Homo sapiens: one gene and its partners. The protein of the gene in region 2 purifies or fractionates together with the protein of the main gene of each other region. This does not show direct contact. Each region holds a gene or a part of one and is shown on either strand. Other genes may lie near its edges.

Evidence for each region. The genes of interacting proteins can lie anywhere in the genome.
Region 1: the proteins of RNF145 (region 2) and ADIPOR2 purify together in Homo sapiens (affinity purification with western blotting; one study listed by BioGRID). This does not show direct contact.
Region 3: the proteins of RNF145 (region 2) and SUPT6H purify together in Homo sapiens (affinity purification with mass spectrometry; one large-scale study listed by BioGRID and IntAct). This does not show direct contact.
Region 4: the proteins of RNF145 (region 2) and SPTB purify together in Homo sapiens (affinity purification with mass spectrometry; one large-scale study listed by BioGRID and IntAct). This does not show direct contact.

The regions. Positions count from the first base shown.
Region 1 is NC_000012.12:1,771,070-1,774,569, forward strand, and holds part of ADIPOR2 (adiponectin receptor protein 2), read left to right. Parts: intron 1-1,772; coding exon 1,773-1,892; intron 1,893-3,500. UniProt on the Homo sapiens protein: Receptor for ADIPOQ, an essential hormone secreted by adipocytes that regulates glucose and lipid metabolism. Required for normal body fat and glucose homeostasis.
Region 2 is NC_000005.10:159,161,054-159,164,553, reverse strand, and holds part of RNF145 (RING finger protein 145), read left to right. Parts: intron 1-1,474; coding exon 1,475-1,622; intron 1,623-2,931; coding exon 2,932-3,288; intron 3,289-3,500. UniProt on the Homo sapiens protein: E3 ubiquitin ligase that catalyzes the direct transfer of ubiquitin from E2 ubiquitin-conjugating enzyme to a specific substrate.
Region 3 is NC_000017.11:28,672,205-28,675,704, reverse strand, and holds part of SUPT6H (transcription elongation factor SPT6), read right to left. Parts: intron 2,949-3,500; exon of another isoform or gene 2,847-2,948; intron 2,335-2,846; 5' UTR 2,304-2,334; coding exon 2,195-2,303; exon of another isoform or gene 2,087-2,194; intron 1,423-2,086; coding exon 1,264-1,422; intron 1,169-1,263; coding exon 1,092-1,168; intron 736-1,091; coding exon 543-735; intron 305-542; coding exon 220-304; intron 1-219.
Region 4 is NC_000014.9:64,869,908-64,873,407, reverse strand, and holds part of SPTB (spectrin beta chain, erythrocytic), read left to right. Parts: intron 1-729; exon of another isoform or gene 730-1,086; intron 1,087-3,500.

The DNA of each region.
Region 1 (3,500 bases), on a different chromosome or scaffold from region 2:
TCCCAACACACTGGAAGCTGAGGCAGGAGGATTGCTTGAGGCCAGGAGTTCAGGACCAGCCTGAGCAACACAGACCTCGTCTCTACACACACGCATGTGCACACAACAGACACAGTGGTGCATACCTGTAGTGCACGCATGCACACACACGTGCGCACAGTGGTGTACACCTGTAGCCCCAGCTATTCAGGAGGCTTAGGTGGAGGATTGCTTGAGGCCAGGAGGTTGAGGCTGCAGTGAGCCATGATCGCACCACTGTACTCCAGGAGCCTGGGTGACAGAGCAAGACCCTGGGGTCTCAAAGAAAAACGCTGTCTCAAACTAAAAAAAAAAAAAGGTCCCGGGGCTTGTGGGTAGCAGTAATGAAAGGTTGAGGAACACGAGTTTAGGATAGTTAAAGAAGGGTTTTAAATAGGAACTATGAAGGTTAGTCATTGAAGGATAGATGGTAAGTTTTAGGTAAACAAAGATGGAGAGGTTATTTTATTCAAGATGGTTTTCTTGGAGATTATGTGTTTTTATAAAATCAGACTGGGTGTATAACATGTCTCACATGCCGCATCATAGCCTCTAGTTAGTGTCTTATAAACTGAAGAATAGGAAAATTAAAATCTCAGAATTTCCTTTTAAACAAGATCAAATTTAAAGTGTTGTAGTAGATTACCCATTGCCTCTGTGTTCATTCTTACCAAGTAGTTTTTTGATTAGAGGTAGAGGATTTATTCATTTCTTTGTGCAGTCATGTTAGCAGTACTGTTTATCTAAACAGACTCTTGGTTACATACGGAATTATGGTTCTCTTGTGCTGTCTTATTCATTGAGTTAAAGAATTATAGAATTTTTTTAGAGATGTAGAAGACTGTAGAGATTGTTTAAACTCCTCCATTGATACATAGGGAGAAAATGGACCTGCAGTGAAGATCCATTGATGTTAGTGGTGGAGCTGGCCTCACCACTTTGGTCTCCTGACTTGCAGTCTACTGCCCTTCTTCTCACAATATCATTTTATCTAAACCAGTATGAACCTTGGTCTGGAGGCAGAAATTTTAATTTTAGTAATTTATCTCTTTAGACCATACCAGATTGTCACTTCTTTTTCCATTTCTCTAGACAAATCAGTCATTTTCTCCAGAATGTGGAAAGGCAGTGGGTTTTGGAGTTTGACTTTTCCACTTCAGCTTTAACCTTGGACAACTTACTTAACTTCTTTGCCTAATGCTCTTATATGTTAAATGGGAATGAGAATACTTACTTAATAAGGTGGTTGTTAGGATTAAGTTAGATGACCTATATATAAAGCCTTTTCCTCTGTGTTGGATATATTTAAAAAATTTATTAAATGTTTTTCTCCCCTTTCTTTCTCTGCCACTAGAGTACTTACCACATTGTGTATCACAGTTAGTTATTTTATGTGTCCCAGGTGCGAGTCTTGGAGGTTTTCCCCTTAGTAATTTCTCAACTTTATGTAATATTATTATGGGGTCTATGACATAATTTTTAAAAAACAAACCAGTAAAGCCAGGAATTTGCTACTGAAACAGAGATGCTGCTATAGTAGACAGTTAATTCATCTGTCAGAGAAGAATTGAGTACTAGTGTTCATTTTTAATACTAATAATTCTATAATAAACTGACTTACTATATTGTTGATTCTTGTCTAAGGCCTTGTTTTGACCTTAAGAATTTCATTATAATTCCACAAGGGAAATGTATTGATTGTGTCATTTGGCTCCCAGTCTCTGTCCTTGACTGTTTCTGTGATTGCCTTGCAGAGCTCTGAGGAACATGAATACAGTGATGAAGCTCCTCAGGAAGATGAGGGCTTTATGGGCATGTCCCCTCTCTTACAAGCCCATCATGCTATGGAAAAAATGGAAGAATTTGTTTGTAAGGTAAGAGTGCAGTTTCTTGTCATTGTCATGCTATATATTTAGCCCTTCCAAAACAGAAACCTTTAAAGAGAGTGGTAGTACTATAGCCTTTGGTTTGCTTTGGGGAAGATCTGTGGCAAGATGGGGACAGAAGTGGTCTTGGGACTCTAATCCTGTTGAAGACAGAATACATTTGTTGGCTTGTAGTAGCCATGATAAAGCTCTGATAAAACTAGGATATCCAGCTGGGAAACAAACATTTCCTAATGTAGGTTAACAGAGTAAATGTCTTATTGGTGGTTTAGACAAACAGAATGAAACATAGTCAGAAGTGGTTGACGCCTGGAGATATGAAAATGCCCTCCGCAGGTCCCTTAAATCTGTTCTGCTGAGTGACTGCAATGGCAAATGTACTGTTCTTTCTAGGGATTCTGTGAGTAATCAGGCTACTCTTGAGAGAGATTTTCCAGTTTCCATGTACATCTGGTATTTTCAGTTCAGCTGGTATACATTCTGTCTCTTAAGGTTTTTCTTCCAGTCCATTGTCTTGATTCCCTAGGACCTATTATGGGATTCTTTTTTTTTTTTTTTTTTTCTAAAATAGTAATTAGAATTGAGTTTGCCTGCTTAGAGAAAATAGACACACTGGTAAACTTGTAGGTACTTGATCAATCAGATCAATAAGGGCCCTGGCAGGTAGAATCTAATTAATGTAAGTCGATCAGTCTGTGTGTATACGTATGTGTATGTAAATTGATTTATTAAACATTTCTGGAGAACTCTTTATTATTTAGAGAGAAATTTTTGTGACACTTAGCTTTTCATGGCTTTTATGAAACCAAAACTTTTTATGTACATGGTCTTAGATCCAGGAGACTAAATATAGGTTTTCTTACATTCACAATAATGCTGGAAATAATTGGGATCAGTGGACTTAGAATGCTATTACTTTGGACCAGGGTATGAAAAGAGAACATTGTGATCTGAACATAGACATCCTTTCCAAGACTAAGGGTCCAGTGGGTTTTCAGGGGGAGTTTAAACATTTATGGGTCTGTAATAGAAAATTTTAGCCAGTTTGAAAATGAGTGAAGAAACAACTGAACAGAACAATAGATTCATTCTAGTGATCACTGTCTCAGGAGAATTAGCACAAAGGGATACAAAAGATTATTTTGTTTTTAAAATGCAAATTTGGTGTGAAGAAATCTCTCAAAGTTGGCAAATTTAGTATCTGGGCCATTAGGGGATTTTAATATTTAGAGATCAGCGGGGTACGGTAGCTGACTTAACTGCCTTTTTGTCCTCTCCCTTTCTGAACAGAGAACAAAGAATAAAACAAATAAAACTCTAAATTTAACAGCAAATCAGAGAATAAATAGGGCAGGACATTTGTTTGCTACAAACTATGATCTTCTGAAGGAAAAGGAGTGTTGTAAATATCCCTTAGCAGTTTGTTGATGACAGCAGAATGAAGAGGCATCCTGTTACACAGTGTTGTCTGGTGTGGCTCAACCCTGCCATGGCAGTGCAACTGACCACACTTGAAAACCAGCCGTGTCTAGTGGCACAGGGATTCTATTTCTTGGACTGGAAGCAAGTAAACAGAGACAGTTTAATATGAAATGT
Region 2 (3,500 bases):
CACCTGTATTAAAATTAGGCATAAATGTAAAACTCTTGACATAACATTGTTGTATATACATTTCTGTGTGTGTGCTTAAATCTATGCATGTGTGTTTATAAATACGTACATATTTCATATAAATCATAGCTGGCTTGATTTTTAAAAAATATATTTAAGGTTTTAAGGCAGATTGCCCTATTAGATCTATAATTCATCATCTAACACAGTACAGCTACTGCCTTTCTTTAAAAAGTTAAAATTGCTGAATCTCAAAGCAAAGCTACTGACAAGTTTACATTTGTTCCTTAATTTCTGATTATTATTATTATTATTATTAGTTTTTGGCAAGAAAAAATGTAAAACACTTTCCAAAGTATGCAGCTTTAATTTTTACCATAATAATTAACTTTCTTCTCTGAATTACTGATTATAATAGGACCACACTGTATAGCATTTGACCTTGTGTGTGGTAACTTTTACTTCCTGACTATATTATAATTAAAGGTAGGAGAGATGATTTATGTTATTTGTGTCTCTTTGAGATGCTTTACTTGGATTTGAGAACATATCACAGATGTTGATGTTTAATTAAAACAGCTTAAATTTTTTTGTAGCCATGAGCTTTATTTCAATTGAAAGCCAAAGTTGTTTAGCTTGAACTAGCCTAAAGGGTTTAGAGAAATGGAGAGCATGATGGAGGAATTTCTAGTGGGACGTAAGAGTGCTTGTGTTTTGCTGAGAGGGCAGTTAGTTAATAAGCAGCTTGGTTTATGAGGAACAGATTTGACAAGCTTGGATGGAAAAATTAGGAGTGGAGGACCTCAAATGCCAGGCTCAAAAATTTAGAGACAGTGTTGAAAATATTACGATAGTAGAGCTTTAGGAGGATTAGTCTGGCTGGCAGTGTCCTGGATAGATCAGGGCTGGAGGAGGGAGGAAAACCAGGTAGTAGATCTTACAATACAGTTGCTCTCAGTCATGTCTCCCACTTACCCTGACCACAACAGATGTGAGGATGAGTATACCTGCTCATTGGAGAGTCATTCCTATTAGTCACACTGCACTCTCTGTAGCAGAGATTCTCATCACAAGTGGAAACAGTGGGAAGAGGGTGTCATAAGATTTGAAAAAGACCACAAATTATTCTAATACTCCCTCCCTGTCTTAACCAGGAAAAATTATTGAAATTGTTAAGGTTTAAGGCTACAAAAGCCTGAAATAATTTGAAATTGCTAGGAGTAGCAATTGAAAGCAAACTATTGAGGAACAAAAGAAAATCAGCTGTACTTTGCAATTGACTGAGTGTGGTGGCTTTGACATGCCAAGCCTGTGTGACTTGGTCTGAACTCTAGTACAGTGACTGGCATGGAGAAGGGTGTTCAGTGGGAATTTGTGAAATTTGATCATGGCACCAGAGATGTTAGCTGCTGATGTGAGTGGTTGTGCTACTAGGTGGCAGGCACTTAAAAAGAATAATTTTGTCTTTCTCCAGGAGCTTGTGGAAACACTTCCGTGCTGTAAGCCTTTGTTTATTTTTATTGGTATTCCCTGCTTATATGGCTTATATGATTTGCCAGTTTTTCCACATGGATTTTTGGCTTCTTATCATTATTTCCAGCAGCATTCTTACCTCTCTTCAGGTAAGCCTATGATTAATTAACTCTATATAATAACCAATTTTGTTATTTTTCCTCCCAGAGGAGGAATTAAATTTTTTCAAGATGAATGATTATAAGTGGACTATTCAGGTGATAACTTCTCTCTCTCTTTACTAGAACACATTACATTTATTTGAGCACAGGAGTTAGATGGCAGGTTATGAAAATATTACATAAACCGGCCGGGCGCGGTGGCTCACGCCTGTAATCCCAGCACTTTGGGAGGCCGAGGCGGGTGGATCATGAGGTCAGGAGATCGAGACCATCCTGGCTAACAAGGTGAAACCCCGTCTCTACTAAAAATACAAAAAATTAGCCGGGCGCGGTGGCGGGCGCCTGTAGTCCCAGCTACTCGGGAGGCTGAGGCAGGAGAATGGCGTAAACCCGGGAAGCGGAGCTTGCAGTGAGCCGAGATTGCGCCACTGCAGTCCGCAGTCCGGCCTGGGCGACAGAGCGAGACTCCGTCTCAAAAAAAAAAAAAAAAAAAAGAAAATATTACATAAACCTATTGATGTCACTGTATTTTTTATGAAGGTAATTAAGCCTTTCAGTTTCTCTTTTTCAAAATGGTATGATACAGAGGTGTCATATAAATCTTAAATTGACAAGTAACTAAAATATTAAAAGTTTTTAGAGCTTGTGTTAGAGCTTATTTGGAGTGTGTTTTTTAAATTCCACTCAAAAATACCAATAGTTCCACGATGTATATAAATATATATGTATATGATGTGTGTGTATTGCACACATACAGACATGATACATGTTTCACAGACATGCACACACAAAATATTGCCCTAGAAATGATAAGCTTATTGTAACTTAAAGGAAGATCTTTGCTACCTAGGTAAAGGAAAACATAACACAGTGAAGAGTTATTCATTATTTTTTTGCAGAAGTAAAACTTCTTTGCGAGTTGTAGAACAGGAATGACTATGGTATGAGGAAAATTAAGATGGAGTTGATGAGGTTTGGTGACCTAAGGAATAAGGGAAAAAGATGAATCAAAAAATTGATTACTCATCAGAATCATTTTAGGAAAGTCACGTCTGACGGTGTGGCTTTTTGTTTTCTATGCCTGGATTACTAAGATCACCCACATTTTAGTCATCAGTGTCTTCTCTTTAGAGTTGATTTTTTATTTATTAAAACTTTTTTTTCCCCTGGATACTCTTCTGTATATTTGAAATATTGCACCCTAAAAACATCAGGAATGTGTTATTGTTTAAAGCCTATGAAAAAAGTATCTTAGTGATCATATTTCAAGATACGTACATTTTTTTTTTTTTTTCAGGTTCTGGGAACACTTTTTATTTATGTCTTATTTATGGTTGAGGAATTCAGAAAAGAGCCAGTGGAAAACATGGATGATGTCATCTACTATGTGAATGGCACTTACCGCCTGCTGGAGTTTCTTGTGGCCCTCTGTGTGGTGGCCTATGGCGTCTCAGAGACCATCTTTGGAGAATGGACAGTGATGGGCTCAATGATCATCTTCATTCATTCCTACTATAACGTGTGGCTTCGGGCCCAGCTGGGGTGGAAGAGCTTTCTTCTCCGCAGGGATGCTGTGAATAAGATTAAATCGTTACCCATTGCTACGAAAGAGCAGCTTGAGAAACACAATGATATTTGTGCCATCTGTTATCAGGTAACTCCTTCAATAAGAATGTGTTTGGGTAAGTCATACAGTGTATCCCTTGGGACTGTAACCATATTAACCAAATTCAACTTAAATTTCTAGGCAAAATTATCTTCTGGATTAAAAAAAATGGACCTCAGAAATTATATTAAAGACCTGATAAAATATTTCCATTTTATTTCTAAATTAAGTTTTAAATTTAGTCCCTTGGGTTCTAATGT
Region 3 (3,500 bases), on a different chromosome or scaffold from region 2:
CTCTACTCCAATCCCACAGTAGTCCTAGAGTGCAGAGACAGCTCCCAGGGCTTCCGGGAGCAGTCTGAAATCACTGCCTGGTAGAGGTTATTTGAGGCAGGGAAGCAAAATGGCTGCAAGCTGGGAATGCCCCATTTTTGGCAAAGGCCTCTGATCTCCTCCTTCCTGACTGGGCCCACTCAATCACTTTATCCCCACCTTGTACCAGACCCCACTCACGCGTCTGTGTATCCAGGAAGCTTTTTCCGCCACTTAGGTTTTTTCAGAGGCTGTCCATCATCATCCACAATGAAGTCGTCAATATCTGGGTAGGAAAAGGATGGGTTGGGGCTCAGAGTCAGGGGCTGAGCCAGGACTAAATTGCTTTGGTTCCTACTATGTGAGTGGCCAGTGAGCAACAGAGAAGGGAAGCTCCTGAAAAGGAACTTCTTTGTGTCAAATGCTGGGGGATGTAGCTAAAGAATGGTTTCCATCCTGTTCCCATGGGCCAGGAAATCCCAATACCCATCCAAACACTGGCTTCCCTGCCCAATATAACATACCTGACTCCTCATCATCTTCTTCCTCCTCCTCTGGAGGAGCCATGGGGGCCTCCATGGCCTCCTGCCCTTCTTCCCCTTCCCCATCCTGGAAGATTTCTTCCGCAATAGCTTCTTTTTCATGTTCCTCCTTGCCATATTCCTCCTCGTCATCGTCCTCGTCATCTGACATTTTTTTGACACGCCGGTACTTTTGCTAGGGGTGGGAAAACCTGCCTTATCAGGATCTGAGGAGTCTGGCATACGGATACCAAATCTCCAGTCTCACTCCCTTCTTCCCACCACAATTACTCTGACCAAGAGAGATGGGAAAGAACATGCCGAGTGATGCTCTTGTAGCCTCAAAGCCCATCCTTGAAACTTGGACAAGACTTTCTCTAACAGGCACCCAGATCTGGGATGCAAATCTAGGCTCCGTAGTACAATGATACCGAACACCGTGCTCTAATGTTCTCCAAACTGTCCTGCGTGTGCCTCCTCACCCACAGACATTGAAATTTCCAGGGCTTTTTCCTTTACCCCCAGGGACAAAAGACAAAGAATGACACTTACTCCTCTTTTGACTTTGACACCCAAATTCTCCTCAATGAGGTCAAAATCATCATCCTCCAGGCGGTCATCAAAAGAGGCTGAAGAAACAAAGTGTTGCCCATGGTGATGGGGTTGCCCTTTTCCACTGCAACCTCCACCCAAGCCTCACTTGAGCCAACGACAGACTACTCACTGCGTTTTCTCTTCTTGTGGCCAACATCATCTTCTGAATCACCAGAGTCACTGCCCTCATCCTCCTCCCCTTCATCTTCATCATCATCGTCATTGATAAAGCCTTTCAAGTTGCCTTGCTCATCCTGATCATCTAGGTTCTCCTCCTCCTCCTCCTCATCTGGAAGACATGCATGTTTGAGGCATGGAGACTGAAAAACAGGCTAGAGGTTCAGGGTCACTTGATTAATGTGATTATCCATTTGCTCTGCACCTAATGACCTGGGTGCCATGTTAACTCTTCTGCCTCATGTAAAGATGCAAAACATAGCCATTGACTTAGAGTAGCAGCATCTGGAAAGAATGTTTTCTTCCCCTACATTCACCATCTGTCTTTGGGCAGGATGATCTTCCCCGTCACTTTGGCTTCTCAAAATCATTACTAGATTATTATAGCCACCAATAACTTTGTTTTACTCAGTTTGTAAACTCAGCAGCTATATTCCTTTTTTTTGCCATAATTCCTTTGATAAAACTTGTACGTCCCTTTACCCCTTTGAAGTCATTTCGTGGTTCTACTCTGTTGACAATTCTAAAGATTGGGCTTGGCCAGAGAAATAGGAAACGAGGTGAATAAATATCAACAATGCTAGGTCTAAAAGCAGAAAGTATTATATACAGACTTATCTACTGATTTATTATCAACCACCCCCCAACTAAAGTAAACTCCACAATAGCTGGATATTTATTGTTTTATATTTCTAGTTCCAGGCCTAGTGCCTGGCATACAGACAGATGCTCAGTTAGTATCTGCTAAGAATGACTGAAAGTTCTCAAGCTGGTACCTCATGTGTGATAACTTCTGTGCTGAGCCTGAGCTTTTCATCAGCAAGAATCCAACTATCCAAAGCTTAGCAATAGTGGGGAGAAGCTTGAGGCTGGGGCCTCCTCACCATCATCCTCCTCTTCCACAAATTTCTTGGTGACTCGGGGTACCACCTCGCCTTCATCATTGTATTCTTCCTCTGACTCCTCAGCCTCGCTTTCCACAAAATCAGACATTGCTGCAGCTTCTCACTCTGCCTGAAGATAACTAGGGAAAGAAAAGAGTGAAGGATAAAAAAACGGACACATGATTGTACAGAGGGCTCTTAAACCTTCCCACAAACAGCCTTTTAGCAACCTGCCACTGCTCTGCCCACTCAACATTCCCACTTGGGGAGAAGAAAAGAAGAATCTGATGGTTCCAACTCTTCCATTATCCATTCCTCCCAGCATTGCTTCTCTCATATGTACTTTTTTTTTTTTTTTTTGAGGTGGCGTCTCACTCTCTCACCCAGGCTGGAGTACAGTGGCGCAATCTCCGTTCACTGCAACCTCCACCTCCTGGGTTCAAGTGATTCTCCTGCCTTAGCCTCCCGAGTAGCTGGGATTATAGGCATGCGCCACCATGCCTGGCTAATTTTTGTACTCTTAGAAGAGATGTGGTTTCAACACGTTGGCCAGGCTGGTCTTGAACTTCTGAACTCAGGTGATCTGCCCACCTTGGCCTCCCAAGGTGCTGGGATTACAGGCGTGAGCCACCGCACCCGGCCTCATACGTACTTTCAAAAAGAAGGCAAAAGCCAGGCTACTCAGGAGGCTGAGGCAGGAGAATCTCTTGAATCCGGAAGGTGGAGGTTGCAGATTGCGCCACTGCATTCCAGCCTGGCGAGAGAGTGAGACTCTGTCTTAAAAAAAAAAGCCATTAGGCCAGGCGTGGTAGCTCACTCCTATAACCCCAGCACTTAGGGAGGCCAAGGCAGGTGGATCACCTGAGGTCAGGAGTTCGAGACCAGCTTGGCCAACATGGTGAAACCCCGTCTCTACTAAAAATACAAAAATTATCCGGGTATGGTGGCAGGTGCCTGTAATCCCAGTTACTCTGGAGGCTTAGGCAGGAGAATGGTTTGACCCCGGGAGGTGGAGGTTGCAGTGAGCTGAGATTGCACCACTGCACTCCAGCCTGGGCAACAAGAGCAAAATCTGCCTCGAAAAAAAAGAAAAAAAAAGAAAAGAAAAAAAGAAAAAGAAGGCAATTATACCAGACTTGTATATGTATCATCTCTCTTCCCCAAAGTTTTACCTCACTTACCATTTGAAGACAGGAATGGGCAAATGAGGAAAGAAACTAATGTAGGGACAATTAAGTGGGGATATGGTGGTAGAGTGAGATTATGTGATCTGCTTCTAGGAGGCTTGGAAACAATAAGTGCCAAC
Region 4 (3,500 bases), on a different chromosome or scaffold from region 2:
AGCCTCTTTTTGTCCAGTGATCTTGAGGGCCTTGATTTGTATGTCAGTCTTCAACAAATATTTACTGAGTTCTCATTTAATTTGCCAGACATGCTGTAGGCCCAGGGAATGTAACAGTGAATGTGGCAAAAATGTCTGAAGTCGTAGAGTGCACATTGTAGTTGGGGGAGAGAGGAACTAAATGACAAGCAACAGACAAAAATATATATTGTAATTTCAAGTGCTAAAAAGAAAAATAAAGCAATATGAAGGGAAAGAAGGGTGGTTCTACTATTTCAGGTAGGGTGGTTGGGAAAACACTATCTGATGGGGCTTCATTTGGGCTGAGACTCAAATGAAGTGGGGAGAGAGGCATGGGATGTTTGGGAGAAGAGATTCAGGTTGAGTGGTAGTCTGTTCTCACACTCCTAATAAAGACATACCAGAGACTGAGTAATTTATAAAGGAAAGAGGTTTAATTGAATCACAGTTCAGCATGGCTGGGGATGACTCACAATCATGGCAGAAGGCAAAGGAGGAGCAAAGGCATGTCATACATGGTGGCAGGCGCATGTTCAGGGGAACTGCCCTTTATAAAACCATCAAATCTCATGAGACTTCTTCACTATCACGAGAACAGCACAGGAAAACCCACCCCCGTGATTCAGTTACCTCCCACCGGGTCCCTCCCACGACATGCAGGGATTATGGGAGCCGCAATTCAAGATGAGATTTGGGTGGGGACACAGACAAACCATACCAAATGGGAAGCCCCCAACGTGGGGCCACTGCTGTGTCCAAGCAATAGCAAAGAGGCCAGTGTGGCCTGAGTGCAGGGTGTCATGGGGAGAGCTAACCACAGTGCTGGAGAGAAAAGCGGGTCTTGATGGTGCAGGCTTTGTGACCTTTGAGTTTTAGTCCAAGTGTCATAGGAAGCCACTGGAAGTTGTGGGCAGGGGAGTGACTTGTTGGGATTTGTGTCTCAAGCAGATCTTTCTGGCGGCCCTAAGGAGGATTGATTGTGGGGCACAAGAGTGGAGGCAAGGAGTCCCATGAAAGCTACTGCGGTGGTTCAGGACGAGAGGATGGATCAGGATGATAGTCCTGGTGAGATGCAGTTGGGTTCTGAGTATAGAGATTATGAGATTTGGATATAGAGGATGAGAGAAAAAGAATAAGATGATTCCATTGTTTTTGGCCTGAACAACTGGATGAACAAAAAGGTCGTTTACTGAGATGGTGATGTATTTTATCAAATGTACCATGGGCTATTTTTTTTTAATTTCTGTTTTTGTCGAGGTGTTGACTTGGAATAGTCTTGGCAGACTTTTCATTTAAATACACCAAAAAGGAGATGTTTTTATTTTGGGATGATTCATGACATCTGTTTGAAGCGAAGCTTTAGATGTGCTGTGTACTTTGTACTGTTACTTTTAGATCAGTCCCACAACGTTTATACTATGTGATGGAGATTAAGATATGGGAGAAACAAGATTGAAATATATTTCACTTTATTTTTAGAAATGTTTTGAATTGGCTGGTTAAAGCCCAAATATTTTTTGATGCTTCCTGGTTGTCATATTTAAAAAACTTTTTAAATTATAAAATAAACTCATGTACGTGGTTAAAACATATATCCATATTATACAAGGGTATACAATGAAGAGTAAAAGTCTTCTCCTAACTTCAGCCCTATTTCTAAGAAGGTACCACTGTCAACAGTTTCTGTGTATGCTTTGAGAAGAATTCCATTCATGTGCAAGCATTTGGCCTGATACATTTTAAAGTCATAGCTTTAAGCTAGCAGCACCACGTGTTAGGTTTCAGATTTAGTAGACTTTGTAGTCACCTTGGTAGCCCTCAAGTTAAGCGACCTGGAGTCCACTTTCTATCAACTAAGGATCTCCCTCTCCAAACCATCCCACACTGAACCACTGTGTTCATCATATAACACCCCTTCTCAAAAGCCACCAGTGGTTCTTCTCTGGGTAGAGGTAGAAATCCAAACTCATAAAGTTGGCTTTTAAGGAGCCATTCTATTCTGGCACCAGTCTCTTTTTTTCTACTCTTTTACCACTTTCCATCACAAACCCTCTACTTAAACTAAGTTTGTCCACTTCTGCTTACTGAGTCCTGACCATTTCTCCCAGATTTGGAGTGTTTTCCATCAGAACTTGGGTTCGAGGCTGTGTCTTCGTCCTGGAACACTCCACTCCACAGTAATCTCTCCCTTCTTCAAACTTGCTAAATTAGGGCTAGATACATGCACCCTATTTGAACATAATCACAAATTCTTTTATTAACTTTCTTTGTATATGTGTATTATTTGCTCAAATATATGTGACATAAATTTTACCATTTTAACCATTTTTAAGTGTACATACAGTTCAGTGGCATAAGCACATTCACATTGCTGTGCAGCCATCACCATCATCCCTCCCCATCATCATGAAAAAGATGGACGTTTTTCATCTTCCAAAACACAAGCACTGTGTCCACTAAACACTAACTCTCCATTCCCTCTCCCTCCATCTGTCTATGGACACTTGGGTTGCTTCTACTCTTGCCTATTGTGAATAATGCTGCTGTGAACATGGGTGGGCAGATATCTCCTTGAGACCTTGCTTTCACTTCTTTTGGACATATACCTAGATGTGAAATTGCTGGATCACATAGTAATTCTATTTATAATCTTTTAAGGAACCCGTCCATGCAATTTTAATATTTCCCCTTGGTATTTAACATCTCCAAAGGGAAGGGCAAAAATTTATTATCCTCATTTTGGGGGCCAAACTGAACTTGAGAAGTGTTTGTTTCAGAACACTGTCTTTGGGTGATAGTTCGTCATCAAAGTTCTTGAATTTGTTCATTTATTAGTGTGCCTGTTTTTAGATTGTAGACTTTTAGAGGACAGGCAGGTGATGTTTAATTTGCTTTGTAGAGCATGTAGCCCAAGCTCAGGTGGGGAAGGGTGTAAATATTATGCGATGTTTTATTTCAGCTAAAAAATCTCCTTGAGCTGGATGACAAGAGTCTGGGTTGCTTCCAGCTCCTTTCCTCTTGCTGTTTGCCCTTGGGTGAAGAACTTCCTCTTTCTCTGACTTTTTTTTTTTCAGGGCTTTTTGTGTGTGTGATTGTGATGGTGCCTTAACATTTATTATTATCCTTAAAATTTTCCTTGTGGATTCCTCTGTAAAACTTACATGTTGCCTTCTCTTTGTAACCTTGCCTGACAGCCCCTCTTCCTTACCAGGTCCTGGGGTAGCGCTGATTGCTTCCTCCTTTGTATTTTTACAGTACCCTTTTCACTCCTTTCTTACAGGTGGATCATCTTGTTTTGTAATTGTCAACTTGCCTTCTACACTGTTAGTTCAAGCTTCTTGCAATGGGGAACTGAGTCTCATGCTTAAAAACAAAACAAAACAAAACCTCTGCACCTAGAGCCATGTTTTATACATGGAGGGGAGTGGCTCAGAAATATTTGTTGATTAAAAAATTAGGCTGGAAACATCAGCTCATGC